Regions from separate parts of the Homo sapiens genome. Here all the other regions are linked to region 1. Evidence: fine-mapped expression QTL. A gene starts in region 1. Each other region holds a variant in brackets. All regions are shown on one strand. Distances are between the middles of the regions. Region 1 holds the start of GRIK3 (glutamate ionotropic receptor kainate type subunit 3). Region 2 overlaps GRIK3 (glutamate ionotropic receptor kainate type subunit 3). Region 3 overlaps GRIK3 (glutamate ionotropic receptor kainate type subunit 3).

Evidence for each region.
Region 2: its variant is fine-mapped to the expression of GRIK3 in esophagus muscle (GTEx, PIP above 0.99). The same link has a PIP of 0.9 or more in atrial appendage, esophagus mucosa, gastroesophageal junction, sigmoid colon and tibial nerve.
Region 3: its variant is fine-mapped to the expression of GRIK3 in transverse colon (GTEx, PIP above 0.99).

The regions. Positions count from the first base shown.
Region 1 is chr1:37,030,349-37,038,631 of GRCh38, forward strand. GRIK3 (glutamate ionotropic receptor kainate type subunit 3) reads right to left here and starts at 4,167. Exons shown (of 16, transcript NM_000831.4): 1 at 3,646-4,167. The coding sequence starts at 3,760. RefSeq lists enhancers at 1,922-2,821, 2,822-3,721, 4,296-4,857, 4,858-5,418, 7,664-8,224.
Region 2 is chr1:36,861,902-36,869,901 of GRCh38, forward strand. It overlaps GRIK3 (glutamate ionotropic receptor kainate type subunit 3), which reads right to left. Exons shown (of 16, transcript NM_000831.4): 5 at 7,847-7,900. Among named protein-coding and RNA genes, the nearest start is that of GRIK3, 170 kb to the right of the region's middle. The variant A/G (reference allele first, on the strand shown) is at 3,199.
Region 3 is chr1:36,876,393-36,884,392 of GRCh38, forward strand. GRIK3 (glutamate ionotropic receptor kainate type subunit 3) reads right to left here. Exons shown (of 16, transcript NM_000831.4): 3 at 4,242-4,499. Among named protein-coding and RNA genes, the nearest start is that of GRIK3, 150 kb to the right of the region's middle. The variant G/A (reference allele first, on the strand shown) is at 3,845.

The DNA.
Region 1 (8,283 bases):
CAGTCATAGGAGTTACAGATGAGGCCGGTTTGGGAACTCTGAGGGAGGGGGTGTCTCTCCCCAGGGATCGGCTGCTGTTGCCTGCTGGGCCCCTGTATATTCAGGAAACTCAGGACCTTGCAGCTCAGTTCTGCTCTATCTGTAGATGCTCAGAGTCCAGAGCTGGGCCAACCCTTCCTTTTCCCCACCCCCCACCCCCTCCCCCCCCCCAACACCTGCTTTATGTCTCTGCAGTCATTTGGCTTCAAACCTCCCCACTGGCTGGCTGGAGATCGCCACCATCCACTTGAGCTCCTCAACACACAGAAGAGCTGGCCAGGCTTCCCCAGCTGCTGCCACCACTGTCTAGTTCCCTTTTCAAATTCCAGGCTGGCCCTCAATCCTACATATGCCCATAACATGAGGAGAGAACTAACCATGAAACCTACAATGGCATAACAGTGCCCGCCAGCCTGCACTAAAGGGAACTTTGAAACCACAGAACATACCAACCATTAAGGCCAACCAAATAGTTTACAGATGGAGAAACTGAGGCCTGGGGTGCCAGGGAGAGGTGTGATTTGATGGAAATGGCCCAACAAACTGGTGGCAGATGCAGCAGAAAACCCAGACCTCCTGGCTCCAAGTCCAGCAGCCCCTCCACTACAGATTTGGGGTCAGGTAACCTGGAAATTCAGGTCCCCACGGGAGGTCACTGAAGCCCGTTTGGCTGAGAGAATCTATGCATTAAACTGCCTTCCGTAAGTTAAGACTGGGATTCACCCAAACAATAATAACGACGATAATAATAATAAAATGCCAAACAATATGGCTTGAAAACCTTCAATGCACAACATTTGATAATCATACATAGAATACATCTTCCACATATTCACATAAAATAATCAATGATCATTTTTTCTCGCAGACTACAATCCAATCATTCTCTCTCCCTTGCTCTCTCCCTCACTCTCTTTTGTTACTTGCAAACCATCCAAGCAATCAATGCCTTGACCTCTCCTTCTGATAGACACAATTACAAAAAGACAGAGCAATGCAATTCATCTATTCAAGACGGATTGTTTGAACACTCTGTCACACTGCTGAGCTATCCATCTCCTTGTCTAAGAGGAAATTTCAGCCCCCAAAAGAGGCACAAAGAGAGGGGGTGGGTACGATGCTCCTCAGCCCAGAGAGCCCCTCTGGCACCTGCAAGAAAGCCCTCTCCGGGCTGGTGCTCGGCGATGCCTGGCTGCTGGAGAAGCATTCAGCTCCAAGCTCAGCCGGCTCAGGTGCCAGTCTTGAGAATCAGAAGCACCTAGCACACTCCAGAGGGCCTAAATTCTTAAAGCCCCAGCCAGAACCCTGAGATCCCAGGGATGGGGGGGATGGGAAAAGGGAGAGGGCACTGGGCCCAGCCAAGGTGGTGTGTTTGGATTTTAGCATGAGATTCTCTCTCTCTCGCTCGCTCGCTCTTTCTGTCCATGTCCACTGTAGCTCCCTGGCTCCAGCTGGGGTTCAAGCAGGGGCTCAGAAGGACAGAAACTCAGCTCCCCAGGAGTCTCCAGAGGCCTCAGAGTCCTCCCATCCTCCGCCCAAACTGGCACAGCTCTGGCAGTCACGTTTGGCGCAGGCACAACACCCCAGTCCATGGGCTGAGAATCAAATGGGGCAGGGCTCTTGGATATAAATGACCTGGGCTGACACGCTAATTAATCCTGGGGCTTAATACGAAGAAGATTAGAAGAGAGGAGGGCTCTGCCATCCTTTAATTTCATTATTACACGCTGAACCCAAGAAAGGGCGGGCAGGCTTGGGGATGCTCTTCCTAAGGGCTGGGAGGAACTCCCTAACCCATTCAATTTCACAGTAAGGATACATCATCCTGCGCCTTCCCAGCTTATCCCTCTGAGGCTGCCCTTACGGTAGCCTGTCCTTCTGGGCCTCCAAAGACTTCCATCCCTGAGGCTGGGCTGGGAGCACACCCATCCCACCCCTGTGGAAGAAGGATCAAGGAAAAGGGAACTGCAATCCGTGCGATGGGCAAATAGCACCCTCTCAGTCCCCCCACCTTTTTCCCCAAGGACACCCTACGACGCAGGCCCCCAAAAAAGCAGAGGGAAGGAGACAGGGAATAAAGGAAGTGCTGGTCCATTACTGGGGGGGGAAGGGGAGGCTTCCTGCCCCTGGAATGGTGCCAGGCTGGGCTTGGGGCAGGCAAAGGCACAGAGATAGAAGACATTTCGGTTGTCAGGAGCAACCAGGCTGGGCTGCAAAGGGTTAAGCCTGACCATAAGGGTTGTCCCCAGTGTCCCCTCCCGTGCCTGGCCTCCTCTGCCTCCGGTGCTGGTGTTTGCCTGCCAGGGTCCTGGGCATGGACCGAAAGATCTCAGCGTGGGCAGAGCTGAGGACTGTGCTCTGCCCCATCCAGATGGTGTTCAAGAGGGTCCGGCTCCCGGGCGGCCGCCCAGGAGGAGACCCACCCGCTGGGTTTCTGACCGCCTCCTAGGAAAATCTCAAGTACGGAAACCAAGCCCGACACCGGTTCCGGCACCTCTTTCACGCCGCTGGCAGCCCAAGGTCCGCCCTGAAGAAGAGCTGTAGAGGAGGAAGGTGGCCCTGGCTCGGCGGAGTCCGGCTCGCCTGGTGCCAGGCGCTGGTGCTGGCGCCGAGTGAACCCAGGCGGCCCAGGTGTCCGGCCTGGTGGCGGGCGCAGGGCCTGCGGTGATGGAGGCTCCGTCTTAGCCCGGCCAGGCCCAGCCCTGCCGGTCGTCGGCCCGGGACATGCGCGGCGCTCAGGCCTGCAGGGTGCCTTGGGCGGCCACAACAAAGTTAAAGACCGGAGTAAGAGTCTCCGGCGAGAAGAGACGCGGAGAAGCCGGAGCCCCGGAAAGCCGCGCGCAGCCCCGCCAGCCGCCGCCAGCTGCGGAGGAATTCGGGCTAACTTTAAAAACCGCTGGCGTCCCTGGGCCGCCTGCCCGGGCCGCACTGGGCGGCCTCCATCGTCCCTTCCCTCTACCTGCACTGCCCCAGGCGGGAGAGAGGCCTTGGCCCCGAGGGACCAGCTGCAGCGGGCAGCGGGGTCCTGCTCCCCCAACCCCCGCCCCATGGCACGGGGCTGAACCGGTACCACCGAGGCCAAGGGCGACCACCAGGAGAGAAGACCGGCTGCCCTCGTCATGCGAATCTGTGCCCTGCGACCTCGCTGCGGCTGCTCGAGCTATGCCAGAGGTGGGGACGAAGGGCCCGCGGGGAGTGAGGTGGGCAGAGGAGAGAAGTTGGCGCCTTCCCCAGGGTCCCCACTCTGCGGAGAAGCCCGATCGCAGAACTCGGTCGGCTGCGGTTCATGCTGGCAGTCACCGCGAAATGCGCCCTCGACTCGGGATCGCACTGGAAACCTTCGCCACACTGTGCCAGGTCTGACCTCCCAGGAGCGCGCCAAGGGCCCCTCGCCCACTGCGGCCCGGCGGCCTCCTCCCCAATAAGTAAGGCCCGTGACCCCGACTCTGGAACTTTGTCCTCACAGGGAGGAGCTCCTGGTGGTCACCGATCGGCTCAGCAGCTCGGAGAGAGGTTAGGAAAATCTCTCCGGAACGCGTTGGGAGGCCCCCTCATTCCCGCCCCCTCCCGGGCGCACGGAGACCCCCGGCTCCAGGGAGCGCTTACCGATCCGGATGACGTGGGGCATCCCGCGCGAGTCCGGGATCCAGAAGGCGCACACGAGGAGCCCGGCCCAGTATTCCCAAACCAGACTCCGGAGGCGCCGCCAGGGAGCGGTCATCGTTGGGCGCCGCCGAGCGTGCCCGGGGCGCGGCCGTGGCGGGCTCCCTGGGGCGGCAGCTCTAGGCGCGGGCGCGCAGCAGCCCCGAAGGCGCCGCCTGGCCCAGCCGCCCGGCTCCCGAGCGCCGCTGCAAGTGGGGGGCGCCCCGCGGCGCCGCGCACATCTTACTGGGGGGCCGCCCCGCCGGCGCCCGCCCCGCCTGGCTGCCGCCCACGGGCTGCCCGCGAGCGAGGCTCCTGGGCTCCGCCCGGACTCCGCTCGGACTCGGCTCCGGCTCCGACTCGCGTCGGCTCGGCTCCCGCGCGGGCTCCCACCTGCCCCGGCTGCCGGGCTCTGGCGGGCGGGCTGCACGCGTCTCCGGCCGCTCCTCCTCCAGCCGCCGCCGATGCTATCGCCCGGGCTCGCACAAAGCCCCGGAGTGGAGTTGCACGCGCGCACACTCTCCCTCCCAGCCCCCTCCCCTGCGCCCTGCCTCCCGCCTCCCGCGCCGCCCGCCGCCCGCGCTCCCTCCGCGCACTCCCCCGCGCACACACACTTCACACTCACACTTGCCGAGGCGCACACTCGCGCGCTCACACCTGCGCGGGGGGCGGGGAAGGGGACCCTGGCCCCATTGTAGGGGGACGCCCGGAGAACGAGGACTCTCCTCGCTTCCCAGACGTCCCCACCCGCCCCGCCGGCCCCAGTCCCTTCTACTGCGAGGGCACGGAGCCCGGGAGCCAGGCGTGGAGCGCGAGAGCTGGCACCGCGAGCTGGGAGACGGCGGCAGCCCAGCGGCCGGACCAGCTGGAGGAGACGCGCCCGCCGGGAGCAGCGAGACCGGGAGCCCGCCGTCTGCGGAGCCTGGCCTCGCGGCTCCCACGCGGCGGGCGCTGGCTGGACGGCGGTGGCAGCGGGAGACTGACCCGGGAACCGGCTTCCCTCCCCAACCCCATTCCTCCTGGCAGCAGAGTTGGGGCTGGGGGTTCGGAGAGGCAGAATTCAAAGCGAATTGTCTACGCTGGGCCAGGGGAGCTGAGGGAGTTGGTAGAGGTGGGAGAGCCCAAGTCAGACCCCCTGCTGTGGGAAGCTGGACTTGACCGCGCACAGGTCCTGGGGCTGCGGAGGAGGAAGACCGCTCACGCCTTAGATGTAGGGGGGCGTGGGCGCCGGGCCCGCTCCCTCTCAGCCCTCTCCCGTAACTGTGCAGGAAGGGCTGGTGCCCCCTCCCTCATTCTCCTGAGAAAGAATAAAGAGAAACTGTAATTTGTCGTGGGATGGAGTAGGATCCGTGGGGGAGCAAGCTAAAGGGGTTAAAAAGAAAAACAACGTTGTTTATTAGCAATAATAATTTTTTTTCAAGTGGCGCTGGGTGTGAGGGAAGGGAAAGGCTGTGGAGCGAGGCTGGAGCAGGAGGCTGCGAATTACTCAGTTAGGCGAGTTTAATGACCTTTTTGACAGAGACAAAGCGGTGCCGATACAGTAGATAAATAAACGGATCTGTCACCGGGCAGCGGCTAGGCTGTGTGTGAATTTATTTTTCTCATTTAAATAATTTGATCTATTCTATCATTTCCAATCTTTCCCATTTGCCAGCTGTCTGGTAAGAGCATGGCCCCCAACATCTGAAGAGCAAATCTTTAATTTTCTTACAAATATTCTATGAGCCGAGCTCTCACCCGCCTGTTAATTTCCCTCTTTTTTCCCCTCCCTGTCTGGGTGCAGAGGCCCGTGGCATTGTGTGGGGATGTGAATATCTCAGTGTGGCCAATCCTGCCAATTAGGAAGGGACGCCCTCCCACCTGAGGTGGAGGCCACTGTGGCTGTGGGAGGAGGAGAGACTCCCTGGGCTCCTCACAAAAGAACACAGAGGGGTGCGCCCGTCCTGAGGACATCCTCAAAAATCCAGCAAACAAACTGAGGTTATTGAGTGTCTGTCTCTGCCAAAGTTGGGCCTCCCTCGCCCTGGAGCAGGAGCGGCTGGTTTCCCAAGCAGCCACTGGAAAATGTTGCCCGAGGGATCGGAGGGAAGGACACGCAGACCAAAGCTAGGGAAGCAGCAGCTGCCACCTCTTGATAAAAAGTAAGGGCTCCAGTGGGCGCCAGTAAGGAGGAAGTGCAGGAGAGGGCAGCAGAGGGCGCGGCCTCCCGGATATAGCTGGGGGAGCCCCTTCCTTGGGGACGCACACCCCTCCCCATCGCCTGCCTATCAGCTTCCGCAACAGGTTTGGTTGCCCCAAGGAACCAAAAGGCCTAGCTGTTCTCTAAGGAAGAAAATTTCGGTGCGCTGATAGACAAACGGAAAGGGACCTGAACTTGAGGCAAAGGACACAGGGCTAAAACGGCATTGCCCAAGGCTGGTCTGGGGACAGGCAAGGGGAGTGCCTGGATGCTAATTCTGCCTGGGTTGTCCTGCAGTCAGCCTGCAAGTGGCTTGGCAGAGAAACAGAAGCAGCAGAAAGGTAGAGGTGTGGCTCCCAGGAGGGAGCAGATCCAAGGCCTGTGGAAGGGAGGGATAAGGGGAGGGGAGCAGGAGGAGAAGCAGCAGCCTCCAAAAAAGCTAGCATGAAAGTGGTGCTAGAAACGCGAAGGGAGGAAGGCAGAGGGGGATGCTGAGGCCCCCAGAGGGTGAGAGTGTGGCTCTGCCACCTGCGAGCCCCCTCGGCGCCCCAGGGAAGCAGCACAGGCTGGGCCTGCTCCTCCTGCATCCCAGAGTGGGCGGGAGTTACCCAGCACGCTGCGGATCGAGGCTTTTTTCTGCTGCCACGTAGGGCTGCGGTGGGAAAGAGCCTCCCAGCTGCAGAGGCTGTGGGGCCCAGTCACTGGACTTGGAAGGCAGCTGGAACCCTGCCTTCCAAGTTGGGGCCAGAGGGAAGCTGCCATCGCCAGCCTGGGACTGGGCCTTTTTCTTGACCTGGCTGCGAGCCATTTTGTGACACAGAGGTTTCCCCAAAACTAACAGCAGCGTGTTCCCTCCCGGTCTAGGGGAGGGTGGGATGCATTGCAAGAACAGAAACAGCAGCAACGATCCCCATAATGACCCCTAGTATTTATTACATGTTTTTATGTTCCAGACAATATATTCACTACCTTACACGCATCACTTCACCTCTTGCTCTCCACACCCACTGCGATAGGATCTTTGTCTAAAATAACAAATCCATTTTACAGATGAAGACTGAGCCTCAGCGGGGTTAAGTAAGAGGTCCAAAGTCACATCGCTGGTATGTGACCTTTCTTTCTTCCCTCCATTCCCCTTCCCTCCCTCTCTCCCTCCTTCCTTCCCTCCTTCCCTCCCTTCCTCCTTCCCTCCCTCCCTTCCCCCCTTCCTCCCCTCCCCTCCCTCCTTCCCTCCCTTCCTTCCTACTTTCTTCTAAAACATATTGGGCATCACCATTTGCCAGGCACTGTGGGTGAGATGTCAAGGTTCACATATAGGCTCAGCCGACTCCTGAGCTCATAGAATTAACCCTGTCCTCTACCATCTGGGCTGAGTAGGGGACAAGCTGCAGGGGCCAATTCTCATCACTCTTGTGGAGCCCCACTGGGGCTGCTGCCTGCGGTGGAAGGCTAAGAGCAGAATACTCAGACACTTTATCAGGGCAGATCGGGGAGCCCAGTCATCCCTAACTCATGAAGAGAGACCTACAGCCCTCTCTGCCGGTGGCATGACATGCCTCTCCAGGCTGCCCCGCCACCAGCAGGCACCAGGGCTGGCACTATCTCCAGCCGCATCTCCTCCGGGCATTGGGAGCCGCCAATCCTGGCTTTTCGCATTGTTGGTAAACAAGTCTACCCACCAGCCAGGCCTAGGCTCCCTGCTCCCCCACGAGGCAGCCAGCGCCGGATTTATGAGGCCTCCAAACCTCATTCAGACTAATGCAGCTTTTCATTCCCAAATAAAAGGGGCCGCTGTCTGAAAGGACAAGTGCTCCCGCATTTCATTAACATCCCTGAAAACGGCTGAGCTGGCCCGAGTTCCTGCCAGCGAGATTCATGTCTCCCACTGGCTCACAGGTGGGTGGTGAGGGTAGGATTTCCAGGAAGAAACCCAAGACTCCCAGCCCCCTCCCTGGCCTCGTCCCCCCACCCCTCCCCAGCTACTTTGGGTGAGGGACGGGGCACCCAGTGGTGGCCGATCATGCTCTTTGGAGGAGCCCCCTGTGCACGTGTTTTGTTTAGACTGATCCACTCTGGCTCTCAACCCCCCCCACAATCGCAGTGAGTGATGATGCCCTGGGCTCGAGTTACCGAGATTCATGTTCTCTGCTTCCCTGGGAAACCACGGAGTAGACGTGTGCAGTGGCTGAGTGCAGATTCCTAGGACTTGAGTGCCCTCTGCCGAGGCCTGCCTACCTTCAGCTCCCTTCCTGCTACCCAGTAGGCAGGCTGCTGGTCGTGGCTGGACGCTGAAGCCCTGGGGCTTCAGCCACTCCCTTAAATGTCCTACCATGGGGCCAGGCTGCTCTACAAGCCTGCACCTGGGGTGCCTTGCTGAGAATGGGGGAGGGGCTCCCTTGCCCCATCTCACCCCAGCATGGGGC
Region 2 (8,000 bases), 170 kb before region 1:
GCCAGAGGGTGTCTCTGTGGCCCCAGTGTCAGTAGGGAGTGGGGGGTGGCAGTGCTCAGCCCTGCACAAGGACTCCATGGCTTCATCTTCACAGCCCCCTGTGAAGTAGGCATTGAATAGCACTCTATTCTATTTTTATAGATGAGAAAAGAGAGTTGGAGAGGTGAGGTGACTTACCTAAGGTCACATAGCTCATACAAGTCAAAGTTGAATTTGTACCCAGGTCTATTTCAATGGTGTGCTGCCACTGGCTCACACTGGCCAGTGGGAGCTGAATGTTAGCATTTCTTCCCAACTCTGCCTTCAGTGACATTACATGGCTAGCTTGGTATTGGCCATGGTAGGAGTATTTGTACCATGGACATTTGCAGGCATTACAAATCAGGATTTCTGTGTTTTGTCTTTTTTCTCCCTTTCAGAGAGCTGGTTGTTAAACATTGACTGATGCATCGTTGATTGTCTTACTCCAAACCCTCTATGTTCTATGTCCTCGGTGGGTGTCCAGGACAAGACATGCATCAGAGCTGTCTTTGGGGATTTTATTTTTCTAGAATATGAACCACACCTAGATAACGCTGATGCATAGTCTGTGGTGGAGCCTGGAGTCTGTGTTTTGAGAAGCCACTAAGCGATTACTCGTGACTGAGAAACACACACAGATGGGTCTGGGTTTAGATCAGGATGCCTCTCGAATCAGAGAAGGGCAGCAAAGAGGGGAGAGAATAAATATCCCAGAAGAAGTCTCCCTCCCTCAGCTCCTCCAGGGCGGCTCCCTGAGGTGGCCAGACATGGGCCAGACCACCTGGGCTCGAGTTTCACCCTCTCTCCTCATCTCAGTTGCCTCATCTGCAAAATGGGGTTGAAAGTGCCACCTACCATATAGAGTTGTCAAGGAAAATAAGTGAGTTTGTAGATGCCCTTAGAACATGTCTGGGACATATCAAACATCATGTATGTGTTTGACACATGTTTATGTTCTGCCTCGTCTGGCAGGAGGTTGTGACAGCTACTGGGTACATACAGCCCCCAGGGCAGACATAGGTTGGTGTCTTCCTACCTTACTCGTCTTGGCAATATCAGAACAAGCAAAGTCAGCTCACATTTACTGAGCACCTACAAATCTCAGAATGGCAGGCATTGTTCAAAGTACCTTACTTGTATTAACTCATTGATTCACATGGGCACACGACTAGGATGGTGTTATTATCACCCCATTTTAGAGGAAAGAACTGAACCACACAGATATTAGGCCTTTTGCTCAAGGTTCTGTAACTGGGGAGTGACAGAGTCAACACCAGGCTACCCAGCTCCAGAGCCCTCCCTCTTCCCTATGATGACGCATCTCCTCCTACCGAGAGGCTCTACCTGCCCAGCCCCCAACTCATGCCCACTGCCAGGGCAGTCACCCTCTGGGCAGGGACTAGAGGGATCTTTCTAAGGTATAAATCCAAGCCTGTCATTTCCACACTTCAAATACTTCCATGACTCCTTGTAGTCTTTTCAGAATATGGTACAAATTCCTTAGTACAGTTTTCCAAAGCTCTCCACCCCTCCAGGCTCACTTTCCTTCCTACCCTCTCAATTTTTTTGTCCCAGGATGCAAGTTCAGGCCTTAATTTTCCCAGTCTCGCTGGCCCCTGTACCCTTTGTCCTGCTTCTCGTCCCTCTGTTCAGCACCTTTGTATGCCTTCTATTTCCAGGCAAGAATGCTTGTCTTCTTGACCTCTCTTGGGTGAGCTATTCTCCAAGAATCAGCTCAAGTATCACCTCTTCCAGGAAGCCCCTCCTGATTGCTCCTGTACACATGCACAACAGAGTGCGTCAGACGCGATTCTGCTCTTATCCTGAGACTTCTGGGCTTTCATGCCACTGGTAACAACTGCTTGTGTCTGGGTCTGTCTCCCCTATGAGCTATGGGCTGAATATTCCTGTTACCCAAAGTGGAAAGAAGGGTCAGCCAGCTGAGTGGCTCCTGGGGCACTTAAGCATCACTGAGAAGAGCCTGGAATGTAGCGACAAGTGTTTCACATCCTCCTCTCAGGGGCAGCTTCAAGGAAGGGCAGATGAAAATACTAGGTTAGTGCAAAAGTCATTGTGGTTTTTGTTATTATTTTAATGGCACCAACCCAATACCCTCCCCATGATATAAGTGTTATTGCCGGGAAGTGGCATTAGTTGTCATTGTTTATCTATTAACTTATTATAATAGTTCTTTTTTCACCTCTAGGCTTTTATCTACATGTGACATGTAGCAGGGGCTCAGCTGGGGCTAATTAACTCAGGGTTATCTACAGACTGGAAGTTTAGGAGAGGGTTGGTAAACTGCCTGGGGTGGAGGATGAGATCTTCCCCAAACTGCCTTTCAACCAGGAGGGTCTGGGGAGCTGGAAGGATTTCCTTTTGGACAGTGGTGTTATGCAAGTTTGGGGCCAGGGCTGACCTGCTGCGACCATGGAAGAGAAGCTGAGCTCTGCCTACAGGGGGCGCCCTCCTCACCTTTCCTTGCATGGCATTCAGTCTCTTCTCCAATTCAGTGTTGACCTGATATCTAAGGCTTGAAAGATGCCAAAGCTTTAGACTGCCCAGGGCCTCCATGACTCGATTTACCCTCATCTAGGTAACCAGAGGCCAACCTGACTCAGTGTGAAGGGCAGCATCTCTGGCCTTGGTGGGAGCTTGGGTGCTGGTGGAACCAGCCCTTCTGGTCTCCAGAGGCAGCATTTGGTCTGTTGAGACTGACACAGAGGCTGCAGCTGATCACAGCCCGGGAGGGGGCAGGTTGGGGTGGTAGTGATTGGGATGACCTTCCTCCCTGTAACCCCTGAGCCTGGGCTTAGCTGCAAAGTGTTGTAGGGCCTGTGGCACAGAGTGCCCCCATCCCCGTGATACGAGGACAATGACAATGGGGAGCTGGTGAAGAGGCTCTTTTGTCCAGCTCCATTTTTTTTTTTTTTTTAATTCAGACTGCCCAGGGCCAAGACCCCAAGTGCTGTACACTGTGAACTGTGTGCAACCTTGCTGCTTGGCAAAAAGTTGTGTTCTCGATGCCAAATGTTGACACACTGAATTCAGTATCGACGAGGGACCTTTTAGAAACATTCAGCATAACATAATAAACTAATTCATTAGCACCCCATGGGTCTGAATGGGTAGGAGCTGAAGCTTGGAAAACATCGCCTTAAGGAATGACAGATGAAA[A/G]TATCTTCCCCATGATATCACTGTTATTGCCAGGAAGTGGCATTAATTGTGATTGCTTATCTATTAATTTATTATAATTCTTTTTTCACCTCCAGGCTTTTACCTACACATGACATGTACCAGGGGCTCAGCTGGGGCTGATTAATGCGAGGTTATCTGGGAATGGCTCAAAGCTGGTTGGAACAGATAATGGCAGCTGGGGTAATTAAAATATCTTCTGCATGGAAGAAGCAAATTTGGAGAATTTTTTTTAGAGGCGAAGAGTTGGTGATGTGGGTTTCCTAAAGGGAAGGAGATAAATGCCAGATGCCACTGTCCTCCCAAATAAGCCACAACTGACCAATGGGCACAAAGAGGGAGGATCACGAGGTAGAGGCCTCGGCAACAGGGCCGGAAGTGGATCCTGAAGACCGGAAGCAGGATATGACTGAGGGAGAGGACCAGGAGCACAGCTGGTGCTCCAACCGATGGGGTTCTGCTGGGAGATACTCTGGGAGACCCCGCCCCATACTCCACTGCAGAACTGTGTGTATTGCAAGGGCTATGCCTCCCTGGAAGGGTCCATTCTTCCCGACCCTCAGATTGTGTGGGGAGGAAGGACAGTCAGCTGGAACAGCCAAGGACAGGACCAGGAGTCAGGAGCCAAGGCCTCTTGTCACTGATCTGCTATGAAACTTCAGGAAGTGCCTGATGCCAGGTTTCCCCACCAGTCAATGGGGAGTGCAAAGTGCCCTGTTGCTGGCCTCAAATGTGTAAAGAGGAAAGTCAGAGGGCTTTCTTCTTGCTTTCTTTTTTAAAGTGACAGGGTCTGGCTCTGTCCCCTAGGCTGGAGTGCAGCGGCACAATCTTAGCTCACGGTAGCCTCTAACTCCTGGGCTCAGGCAATCCTTCTGCCTCAGTTTGCCTTCCAAGTAGCTGGGACTACAGGCCTGCCCGACTATGCCTGGCTAATATTTTTATTTTTGTAGAGATAGGGTCTCACTATGTTGCCTAGGCTGGTCTTGTACTGGCCTCAAGTGATCCCCTTGCCTTGGCCTCCCAAAGAGTTGGGATTACTGGTGTGAGCCACAATGTCCAGCCCTAAAATCAGAGGGTTTTGGAACTGGTGTAGCATGGGAGCTGCTGGGATTTCAGGAGGCTCCGTTTCCCCATTGACCTCAATTACCACACCTGAACCAACATGGTCAGGCATTGTGTGGAATCTGAGCCAGCCAGAGGAGGCCAGGGAACACTTGGTGTGGACTTTCAGCATGATAGGTTTCAGCAGAGGGCTTTGGAGCTGGACAGCTCCCTGCTGCGAAAAAATCCTTGCTCTGCTCCTTTCTTGCAGAGTGACTTTGAGCCTCAGTTTCCACGTTTCTATAAAACTGGGAGAGTCTATCTCCCTTGGAAAGTTGTTCTGAATTTTGGATGGGATGGGGTATGTTGAGCACACAGAAAACAAAAGCAGGATGTTTAGTTTATTTAACACTTACACTGTAATAAGTGCCAAGCATTGTTCTAAGCATTTTATGACGTCAATGCACTCAGCGTAACAATCCTGTGAGGTAGTAATATTACTGTCACCACTGTATAGATGAGAAAATGAGGCACAGAGAGGTTAAGTAACTTGCCCAAGGGAGTGGAAGAGTCTCAATTCTAACTCAGGCCAACTGGGATCAGAGTGGTTTTAACTAACTGTTGCTATGATGATGTGTTGACAATTTCACGGATTACTTTCCACATTGCATTGCAGTCATCCATCCGTCCATCCATCCAGCCGTCTGTCCATCCATCTGTCCATCCATCCAGACATTAATGAGCACCTACCATGTGCCAGCTTCTATGTGGGTGCTGGGGACAGAGAGGTTAACTGGGCACAGTTCTTGTTTCTTATATACATGAAGGAAGCCACCAGCTTGTGAGCTTTGTGTTGAATCCATCTATGTACACCCCTCCCACCCAAGTGCCTAGTGCAGTGCCCAGGACCTTGGAGAGCATTTGTATATGGCTGCTGGATAAATGAATCAATGGATGATTAAGAAAATGAAGAAAAATGGACACTGGCCGGGGCTAGTCTCTGTTCCCTAGAGACTTTAGCACACCACAGCTACCCTGGGTACATCATATCCCAGTTGACCATCCATTCCTCCTCTGCCTCTTCTCACCATCTCTTTCTCTGATTATCACCCACTTTCCCAGATCCAATTGTGGACTGGCTGAGCATCAGTCAATGTTTCTCAATGGGGCACCATAGTTATCTGGGGCTGGACAACTCATCTCCAGAATCTTGCCCATCATAGAATGTCTAGCATCCCTGATCCCCACTCACTAATTTCCAGTCTTGGTGACAAATAAATGACTAGCTCCCATATAGCTAAATGCTCCCAGGGTGAGGGTTGTGTCACCAGCAAGATTGCAGAAACCACCCTTGGGACAGACGACGACTACTTCTTGGCCAATCAGCTGAGGTCTGCCCATGGGTAGAGAGAAAGAATGCTCTCTAAGGTCCTGGGCACTGAGCTAGGCACTTGGGTGGGAGGGGTGTACAGAGATGGATCCAACACAGAATATAAGATAGAGCCACCAAGCAGAAAGCCTTGGGACATTGGGAGGTTTCAGTAGAATTGGGGTCAGAGCAGGAACAAAATCTTCCTATCTCCTTCACCCACCCTGAGTACTGCCCTCGCCACCCACTCTGTCTGCACAGGGCTTGTGATTAAACCCCCTCTGGGCCTTGCTCCAAGTCCCAGCCGTAAATATCCTATTAAAAGCATCTCTGCCTGGCTCAAGCCTCATTCCAAGGCCGGGGTGGGGGGTCGTTGAGTTGGTAAAATGGCAGGGCCTGAAGCTTTGGCCCCTCAGCCCTGCAGCCTGGCTGACCTTCCAGGACAAGACTCTGGGGAAGGCACCACCCCAGTGACCCCAGTACCTTCCACGTTAATGCCATTGGCCACTGGGGTCAAGATCGAAGGTCTTAAAGAGAGGATCCTAGTGTCCCCGGGTCCAGGAGTTGCTCTCAGCACCCTAAGATCTCAGGATGGGATGGGGAGGGCTGCCATGAGTGGGGAGAAAGTTGTGGACCCCTGGAATGTGCCCCACCCCACCTTCCCAGTCTTGCTCCTCTGCCCTGCTCCCAGCTCTGGACAGAGGTAGAGTTTCAGGGGTCTGGTAGCCTCCCTTGACTTTCCAGGAGACAGCATGGCAGGAAGAAGCCAGCTTAGGTGGGCGGAAATCCAGAAGGGATTCAGGGGAGCTGGCTTCACTCTGCCTGATCTCATTCGCCAGCTTCCAGGATCCCTTTCTCCCAGCATGGCTCCTGGCAGGTCCCCAGGTCTGAGCCCTGGATCAGGAGAATCGCAGGGTGGCTCCTGAGCTCTGCTGTGGGCACAGGGTGCAGAGGGAGGGACTGTAGGGAGGATAAGTGCTTAATAACCAGCTCTCTGGGGGAGGCGGCTCTTATTTGTAGCATTTGCTCACTTCCATTGTGTAAGCGTTCCCGTCACAGTGATTTCAAGCTACCAACATGACATGGACTTAGGAGGAGATAATGCAATTGGCTCTCGCCCGCTGGATCAAGCCAGCTCCTGCATACCATGAAGAGCTAACTTGCCTCTTGGCCTTTGCTTATGCTGTTCCTTCTGCATACAATGTCCTTCCTCTTTCTCCCTTGGTGAACTCCTATGGATCTTTCGAGGCCTAGTTCAAGTATCTGGTTTTCTGTAAGACTGCCTCAAACTTCCCGCCTTCCACCAGACCCTCAGAACCTACGGGGTCATAGATGCTGGGTAGGGAGAGCTAGCTGGGTGCTGGATAAATGAATGAATATGGTTAGAGGCCTACAGGGCTGCAGTGGCTGGGCAGACACATACTGCAGGAGGCTTTTTGAAAAGCGACAGGATGGTCAGTGAGGCTGTCACTCACCTCAGACCTGGGATGGGTGGAATAGTCTGCCCAGGGCCCCAGCAGGGTCTGAAGGTGTCTATCTGCAAGGCAGTGAGGCTCAGGATGGGTGCCCTTTTGGCACAGGAATCTCTTTATTCTGCTGAACTCAGGCCACAGCTAATTATCCTAATGGGTTTAAATGGCCCTAAATGTTCTCAGAGTTTGGACAGGACCCATCTGGAGCCTGTAGGTGGGCTGGGCTAGCTGACAGTGAGTGGGCAGACTTCAGTATGAATGTGGACAGAATCCAAAGCGACAATTCCCGTGAGGCCCGAGATATGCGTGGGGAAGTGTGGGCTAGGAACCGAGGGCCATGATAATCATAATAGTGAATACTTCCAGAGCTCCTCATGTACCAGGCACTGCGTGTTACCTTATTAACTCATTTGGTGCTCACAGTAATCCTAGGAGGCAGAAGCCCATTTTGCAGAGGAAGAAACTGAGGCAGGGAGGTTAAGTGCCTTAGCCAAGGAACCACAGTGGTGAGCAGAGGAGCTGGTGTTCACATTGGCTCCAGAGTTCACATCCTTAATTATAACATGATGCTGCCTCTCACAAGTGGGCAGGTCACAAAGACATATTTGTGCCCTTACCTGGGGCCACCCCTACAGCCTGAGGAAGCTGCAGCAATTGTCTTCAGTGGGCTGGCCCAGGCTAAGCCACAATGAACTTGATCCATGAGAGTCCCACCCCTTTCCCGTGCCAGGACCCAGAGGTACATTACCAGAGTGGTGAAGATGAAGTGGTAGTACTCAGTCATCATGCCCATGGCCATGGCCTGCAGAAAAGCAGAGTGTTAGTGATCAGCAGGGAACCCCTGGGCAGCCCTCCCCACATCCCCACCCAGGGCTGAGAATGGGACTGGCAGTGGGTTGGGG
Region 3 (8,000 bases), 150 kb before region 1:
GCCTCTACCTTCTGTATGCCACCTACTGCATGCTCCGAGCTTCAGCAGCCCTATTGTGACTATGAGCTGAAGGCCAAGAGAGCTGTGGCAATACTGACCCAGCACCCTGACTTTGTCAAGCTGCTAAATCATCCCAGGAAAGGCCCATCTCCAGAATTCTTGTCAGTGAGATAACGGTTTATTGCTTGAGTCAATGTGAGTTGGGCTGTCTGTTACTTGCAGCCAAAACATCCTGATGGACACAATCTCCAAAGCAAACACAGCCAAAGCCCACTGTGGAGTATTTCCCACTCCATGGGTTTGATGACCCATACATTGTCCTGCCCTTTGACATATCTGGATTCTGGGAGCACACTTCTTTCTACCCACTATACATCATCAAAGTTATATTATTTGGCTGAAGCCAAACCTGAGCCCCTAGTGCTCATTGTCTTCTTGATCAAACTCACTGACCCATTGACTCCCCTATGTTTTAAATATTTGTTGAACTGAATTGAGTTGAATTTAACTGAATCAAATGGAAAATGAAGTTGAATTAAACTCTAATTAAATATTGAAGGAAAGAGTATAAGGATAAAAAAATGAAGATGTTGCTATCCTATCTCCTTTTGAGAAGTTAATTGTATTCCAGAGGAGTGGGTACCTGCCCAGTGATCACAGGTAATTCCAGGCCATCAGAGCTGAGAATGAAGTGACGTGTACTTATAGTCAGAGCTAAAGGCACTTGTGGGTAAGAGCTGCAGACCTGAGCATCAGCTCTGGCCAGTTTTGCTAGCATGGTATCCATCATCATGATAAAGCACCTTTTCCTCTGCAAAGCCACTTCCTCCACCCTCCACCTAGACTATGTCAGTGTCTGCTCTGACACTCTGTACCCATGACATTCCAGTTACATGTCTTCAACATTACCCTGTTCACATCCCTTTCTTCTCTTCCATTCTGGCCCCATGTTCTCTTCCAAGCACCCCTTGAATTCTGGCCTCCTTTGCTCCTGTCTGGACCAGTGCAGTCGGCTGTGCTCTAGTCTCCTTGCTCTAGGCTCTCCTTCCAACCCTCCCTGTGCATTGCTCTTAGAACCACCTTCTAAAACTCTGCTTTGATTATTCTACGCCTTTGCTCAGCAATACTCAATGATCCTTGGCTGCTTTAAAGATAAAACCTGAACTCTGAGGCTGGACATCAGAGACCTTGCATAGCCAGCTACACTCTGTTAATCTGACTTTTTCTTCCCACCTTCCATACCTGAATCCTCTCCCCTAGCCAGGCTGTCCTCTTGGTTAAGCTGCTAGGTACAGTCCAACCTAGTTTTTGCTCATGCTGTTCCCTCCACCTGTAATTCCCTCATGATTCCTCTCCTCATTCATCTATCCTCTCCTCATTCACCTATCCTGCTCCAATCTCTCCTCCTCTGGTAAGTCAGCTCAGACCAGCCAAGGCCATAGAGCTTCCATTCCCCAAGTGGTCTGGCTCTGACTAAATGTATATGCCATTTCATTCTTAGCTCTGATGGCCTAGAATTATGTGTGACCTCTGGGCAGGCACCCATTCTTCTATGCTAAGATTAACTTTTCAAAAGAAGACAGGATAACAACATCTTTGTTTCTTCACCCGTATACTCTTTCCTTCAATATTTAATTAGGGTTTAATTCAACTTGATTTCCAATTCAATCCAAACTAATCCAATCCAGTCCAATCCAACTCAGTGCCAACAAACAATGAAAAACATCTACACTGTACCAGACCCTGTGTTAAATCCTGGAGACACTGAAAGCTCCTGGCCTGGAAGCAGACACAGACTCACAGACAGATAATGATTCACAGTGGTACATTAAGAAACAACTCCACAATGCAGCAGAAACACTGGAGTGGCTGGGAGGTGGGCAGGAGTGCCCCTCAATGGCAAGGTCTTCATGCTGGGGTGAATAAGCCAGGCTGGGGATCCCTGCTCTCAAGGATCTTCTGTCGGGTGCTTTGGAAATAGCAGGAACTCAATAGATGCTTGTAGAAGCCTGAGTTAAATAAACAGCTTTCCAATTGTCTTTTCTGAGGGAGTCTCTCCCTACTATTTCCAGTCCCCATTAGGAGGTAATCAAAAGCTGACATTGAATCACAGGCAGCTGAGAGCTGGAGGGCTCTTTCAAGGCTGGATGCAGCAGCTCTTGACATGTGGGCAGAGCAAGGCCAGATGGGTTAAGTGACTTGCCAAGGTCACTCTCTCTTAAGAGGCCAGGCTAAGAAATGTCTTGGGACTCAAGCCTTTGGAAAGAAAGAGGAGAAGAAACAGCTCCATGCTGGCTAGCAGCACAGACTTTAGGCTCAAACAGGCCTGTAGGTGCATGCTGGCTCTGGCACTCACTAGCTGGGTGACAGTGCACAGGGCATGTCACCTCTTTGGGACTCAGTTTCCTCATTTCTAATTCATCGCTCCAGGGAGTTACTATGAGATTTACATGAAATGAAATAAGATCACACTTGCACCACTTGGTTCGCAGCAGGTAAACAGTAGCCTTCTTTAGCAGATGAATCCAGAAGCATGTATGAATTCCATCTCTAGGGGACTCTCCAGGTCTGTCCCTGCCCCACACATCCTCACAAGGATGACTTAAGGATGAAGGCAGGGACCAGGCAGCGGTCAGTGCCCTCAGTGGCTCTTCTCTCCCTTTTCCCTTTCCTGCTTGCTCTTTTTGTGACTTATGGCAGACCATTAGCTCTCTGTACATAGAGCTACATGGAGATGGCTCTGTTCATGCAGATGGCTATGTTGTCCCGTTTGTGTTTCCCTACAATGTAGTGCTTGCCAAGACCAAGAACTGAGTTTTGGTGTGGTGTGGTGACTCACACCTGTAATCCCAGCACTTTGGGAGGCTGAGGTGGGAGGATTGCTTGAATCCAGGAGTTGGAGACCAGCCTGGGCAACGTAGCCAGAACTTGGCTCTACAAAAAAATACAAAATTAGCCAGGTGTGGTGCTGCATGCCTATAGTTCCAGCTATTTGGGAGACTGAGGTGGGAGGATCTCTTGATCCCAGAGGTCGAGGTGATAGTGAGCTGTGGTGGCACCACTGCACTCTAGCCTGGGTGACAGAAAGAGTGGGTTTTGTTTATCTAAGTATCTCCAGCTCCTAGCAATGAATGAGATCCAAAGGAAAAGCCAGAGTGCGTTTGCTGGGTTTGTTGGTGGTTATCTGCTAGGTGTGTGCTCTGGGCCCTCTCTAAGGGCCTGGGACTTGAGAGGCAGGGGGTATCACATTGGAGCAAGGGTTTTCTGGAAGGCAGAGCCCAGGCTGGACTTGGAAGGCAGGGCAGGAGTGGGTCAGGTGGGTCCTACCCAGAAAAATGTGGGCAGCATTAGCTCTAGCTGGCAGAGCATGTGGGACAGGTGCAGCCACATCAGGGAGCCCAGCTTTGGGCCCGCAGCTCATAGCCACGGGCCCCAGAGCCCATCTCCTCTTTCTGTCCTGGCAGGATGAGACAACAGCCTGGTGCTGACGTCTGCAAGCTTGGCACTGGCTGGGGTCAGCGGTCAAGTGGGTATGGCAGGGGCTGGTGTGTGTGCGAGCAGAGCTGGGCACGTGCAGGTGTCTGTGTGTGAGTGTGGGTAGAGAAGAGTGTGTGTGTGGCGGGTGAAGGTGTGAGGAGGATGAGAAGAACCAACCTTCAGCGCTCACTGCATGTCAGTGCTTGTCACTGTCATCTTGTAATCCCACATTTTACAGATTTACATTTTATAGGAAACTGAGGCACAAAGAGGCTACTCAGCCAGCAGGTGATAGAGATGGGATTTACACCCAGGTGGTTTGGCTCCAGTGTGTACACACTTAACACTAGGCCACGCCATAAGCTAT[G/A]TGTGTGAGTGTGCAAGTGTGAGGGTGGATGTGTTTGCAGCAGATGGAAATGTGTGAGCGTAAGGGCATGGGCAGGTGTCGGTGTGGCTTGCAGATGTGTGTGCTGCTGCTAGGGTGGGTGTTCAGTGCAGATTTGAACACTTGTGCTGCTAGAGGAGGAGCTGAGTGTGAGGCAGGGGTGAGGTGCGCTGGGGCTGAGTGAGATATGAGTGCCGCTGGGGTGCACAGGGTGTGAGTGGGTGCAGGGGTGAACATCAGCATAACCGAGTGGAACTGGGGTATGGAACACAGCCTCTTCCCCCAGGGCAGCTGTGCTGAACAAACAGACAAGAGCTTGATCCTGGGCCTCTGCCCCCCTCAACCGTTGCCCCCAGCCTAGCCAGGCCTGGCCACCCACCTGTACTGTCGTCATAGACCACGGTGGCTGACCGCCACTTGAGGTACTGGACCAGGTCGAGGATGGCATGGCTGAGCGAGGCGTAGTCGGGGTAGAGGTTCACGTAGAAGGTGTCCTTGTTGTCCAGCGGGTGGTGCTTCCAACGCAGCTGGATGTGGGGCACCTCCAGGGCATTGCAGATGGACTGGACGGCATTGGTGCAGGAGCCCTGTGATGGGCCGAAGATCGCCACCACGCCCAGTGCCAGCTGGTCACAGGCTGCAACAGAGGGTAGGGCAGCACAGGGGTCAGCACTGGGGCTGTGGGTATGGGGACAGTGATGCTGATGATCCTGTAAACATGTGGGAAAAACAGCAACTGGAACCCTCGGTGGGTGCACAATGGATGAGCTCTCTGAACCTCAGTTTCCTCATCTGAAAACAGGGGTTCTAACAGTCCCTGCCTTGCAAGACCACATGAAGGTGGAAAGACATGGTTGTGGGAGACTGGAGCACAGTGCCAGGGTACGTCCCTTTTCCTTAGGAAGTGCCCATGACAAAAGTGATCACCACATTCAATGTTACCATCCTGGGATTAGCATCACCATCTCTGTGCCAGGTTCTGTTCTTGGGGGACTTGAGAAACAAATAGAATCAAACTGGCTGATGGTGCTTCAACTTCAACCTCTAGCCCGGCCTGTTCCCTACCCCGGACCTGTGCATCTCACCTCTTACTCAACATCACCAGTTGGATATCTGACATGCATATCAGATCTGACATGTCCAGCACAGGATCCCCTCTTGTCCCAACCTCCTTCACCTCCATAAACAGCAGCTCCATTGTCCCTGGACCCATATGCCAAAAACCATGGTTCTGTCTTGATTCTTCTCATTCACTCATATCCCACACCCCAATTCATCAACAACTCCTGTGGCTTCACCTGCAAAATACATCACAACCTGACCACTTCCCGCCACTCCCAGCCCCGACTCCCATCCTGGTCCAAGCCGCCATCATCTTTGGCTTGGATTATTGCAGAAGCTTCCTCAGTCATCCTCCCTCCTGTCTATTCTGCACTCAGCAGCCAGGGTGAGACTTCCACAGTATAAGGTAGATTACGTCACTCCTTTGCTTCAAGGGCTCCTCAGTGCAAAAGCCAAAGTCATAGCAGTGGCCAGAGATCCTGCTTGTTGTAGCTCCTCCCTTCCCTGTCCCTACCGCCACTTTTCTGACTTCGTCTCCCATCCTTCTTTCCCTCCCTCAAAGCATTCAAGCTCCTCTGGCTTCCATGATGCTCCTTGAACATGCTAAGTGCATTCCTGCCTATTTGCACGTGCTGTCCTCTCTGGCTGGAATGCTCTTCCCTCATAGAGCCTCAAGACTCCCTCCCCCTCCTCCTTGAGGCCTCTGTGTCTGTGTCTTACTAGGGAGGCCTTCACCGCACAATTTATAATCACAATCCCTGTCCCCCCATGCCCTGTTTATTTCCTTCTTTATTAAATGATCACTGGAAGTCTTGTCCATTGGTTGACTTTCTCCTCCCAGTAGAATGTAAGTTCCAAAGAGGCAGGGCCTTGATCTATGTGGTTTACTGCTGTATCGACAGTGCCGAATCATCATCTGAATGTTGAATGAATGCCGAATCCCTGCCTTCAAACAGTTCAGGTTCTTGCAGAGGTCCAAAAACTCAGGCAGGTGAGGCAGCAGATGCTTTCCACCGGCCTGGGATGGTAGAACATCAGTGGGCACAACAGAGCATCAAATGAGCAGACCCAGGGCAGCTGGGGCTCAAAATGGGGGATTCTGCCTAAAAGATCCATAGAAAGGGGACCTCTTAGAGTCATTCTGGGGTAGGTGGGAGAGCTCCCCAGAAGCCATTCTCTCTTCTTTTCTCAACTGTCTCTAATTTTCCTTGGGGCTTCACCCCTCTTTTCCACTGTCAACCCATTGGTGCAGAGAATGCGGCTCGCACCCAGAAAACCACTCACTGACCTTCCTAGTTCACAGCCATGAGTTTAGAGGACATTTGTGGGCCAGTCAGAGCCAGTGGGATGCCATGAGATCCACTGGACTGAGAAAGGGGCACCTCCCTCTTTAAGTGAACCTTCAAGGAAGTAACAGCTGGAGCTGCAGTAGCCATCTTGTGCTCATAAAGAGGGGCGCCTGTCTGTGAACATAGTCAGTGTGGGTTGAGCAGAGCCAAGAGAGAGAAAACACAGGAGTCGCCCACCAGGCAAAACCCTGGACTTAGAATTTGCATGAACCAAGACTTACGCCATTTAGGTTTTAGTTTTCCGCCAGTTGCAACCATCGGAGATCCACCAACAGAGCATGAGCAAGCTCACCTACCTGTGGACAGGGGAATGACACTATGTGCACACATATGACATCTGATGCACACAGGAGGAGGCAGGACAGAGCACCGAAGCAGGAATGAATACACTGGATTCAGTGTATTGAGGCCTGGCTGTCTCAAGGGCCTCTGGGAATGACCCACTGGGCACAGGCCTACCCCTAAGATTTGCAGGGCCCAGGGCCAGAGTATAAGTGGAAGCCTACATACCATACGGCTAAATAGTTACATGCTGTTAGTCAAGCTAAAAAACTGTTAAACGAAACACGTCCTTTTCTCTTACCTTGACAAATGTACCTTCATCACAATCTGGAAAGTCAGGTGAGAATGGAGACTTCTCCTACACAGTGACATGGGGAGAGGTAGCACCAGGACCCCATTCTCCCCCTTTCTCTTTTACCACTGGCTCCATCCTGAACCATAAGGGGCCTTGCATTCTCTGTGGAAACCCCAGCCCTTATGTCCAAACACTGTCTACACCCACTGCAAACAGCTGCCCCTTGGTCACCCTTAGGGCCTAAAAGTGCACCTCCTGCAAGTATGGCTTTCCCTCTGGAAGACAGACCCAAGGAAGAGGCCCACGCATGTCCTAGAAGTGGGCTCAGGGGCAAGTGGGCAGGAAATTCAGGGTTCTAGATCCTTAGAGGAAAGTCTGGAAGGGCAGGGCACAGGCTCCTGGTGGGTATGTCCCCTGGTCCCACTGACTCCTTGTCCCGGGAGGAGAGGCCAACCAGAGGAGGCAGAGGGCAAGACATCAAAGCACAGGCCCTGGGAAAGGGTCCCTCTCGCCTGGGCTTAAGGATGGTCCAGATTGATCCAGATTGATCCAGAGGTACAGGGTAGTTTTGAATCCATCAGAATATGTGGTCTTGGGTTGTGTTTCCTGTTGACTCACATCCACCACTCCCACTGCCTCCTGGAAATGGGAGATTTTATATAAAGAAGTTATTTTTCCTGAAATCTGTACTTCTACCAGGAACACCAGAGATTGCCACTTAAGGGCAAGGTGAAAGATATAGCAATGTGATGAGCTGGCTAGTTTTTGTTAGGGGTCTGCTGGAGCCCCCTGTAACACGGGGCAGAACAGCAGCAGTGCCAGTACAGAGGGTATCTCCTGGGCAACCCAGGATTCATTGTGGCCAAGGCCAGGTGCAGGAGAGCACATACAACGGGGGCATGGCATCCTCCTGGTGCTTCTGTAGTTCTGGGACTGGGAGCCAAGTCGGGGAAGCACCATCTTGTTCCTGCTCTTGTCACCTTTGAGTCAACATGCCTTGGGTAGCCCTTGGTGTGAGCAGGTGTGTGAGACAAACCACAGTGATAATAAATGCTTTAAAAACAGGAACTCTGGGTTTGCTGGTGAATTGTCAAATTTAGGACTAGTTCTTTTTTCAGTTCCCTCTCCCCAAGGAGGCCATGCTCGGACC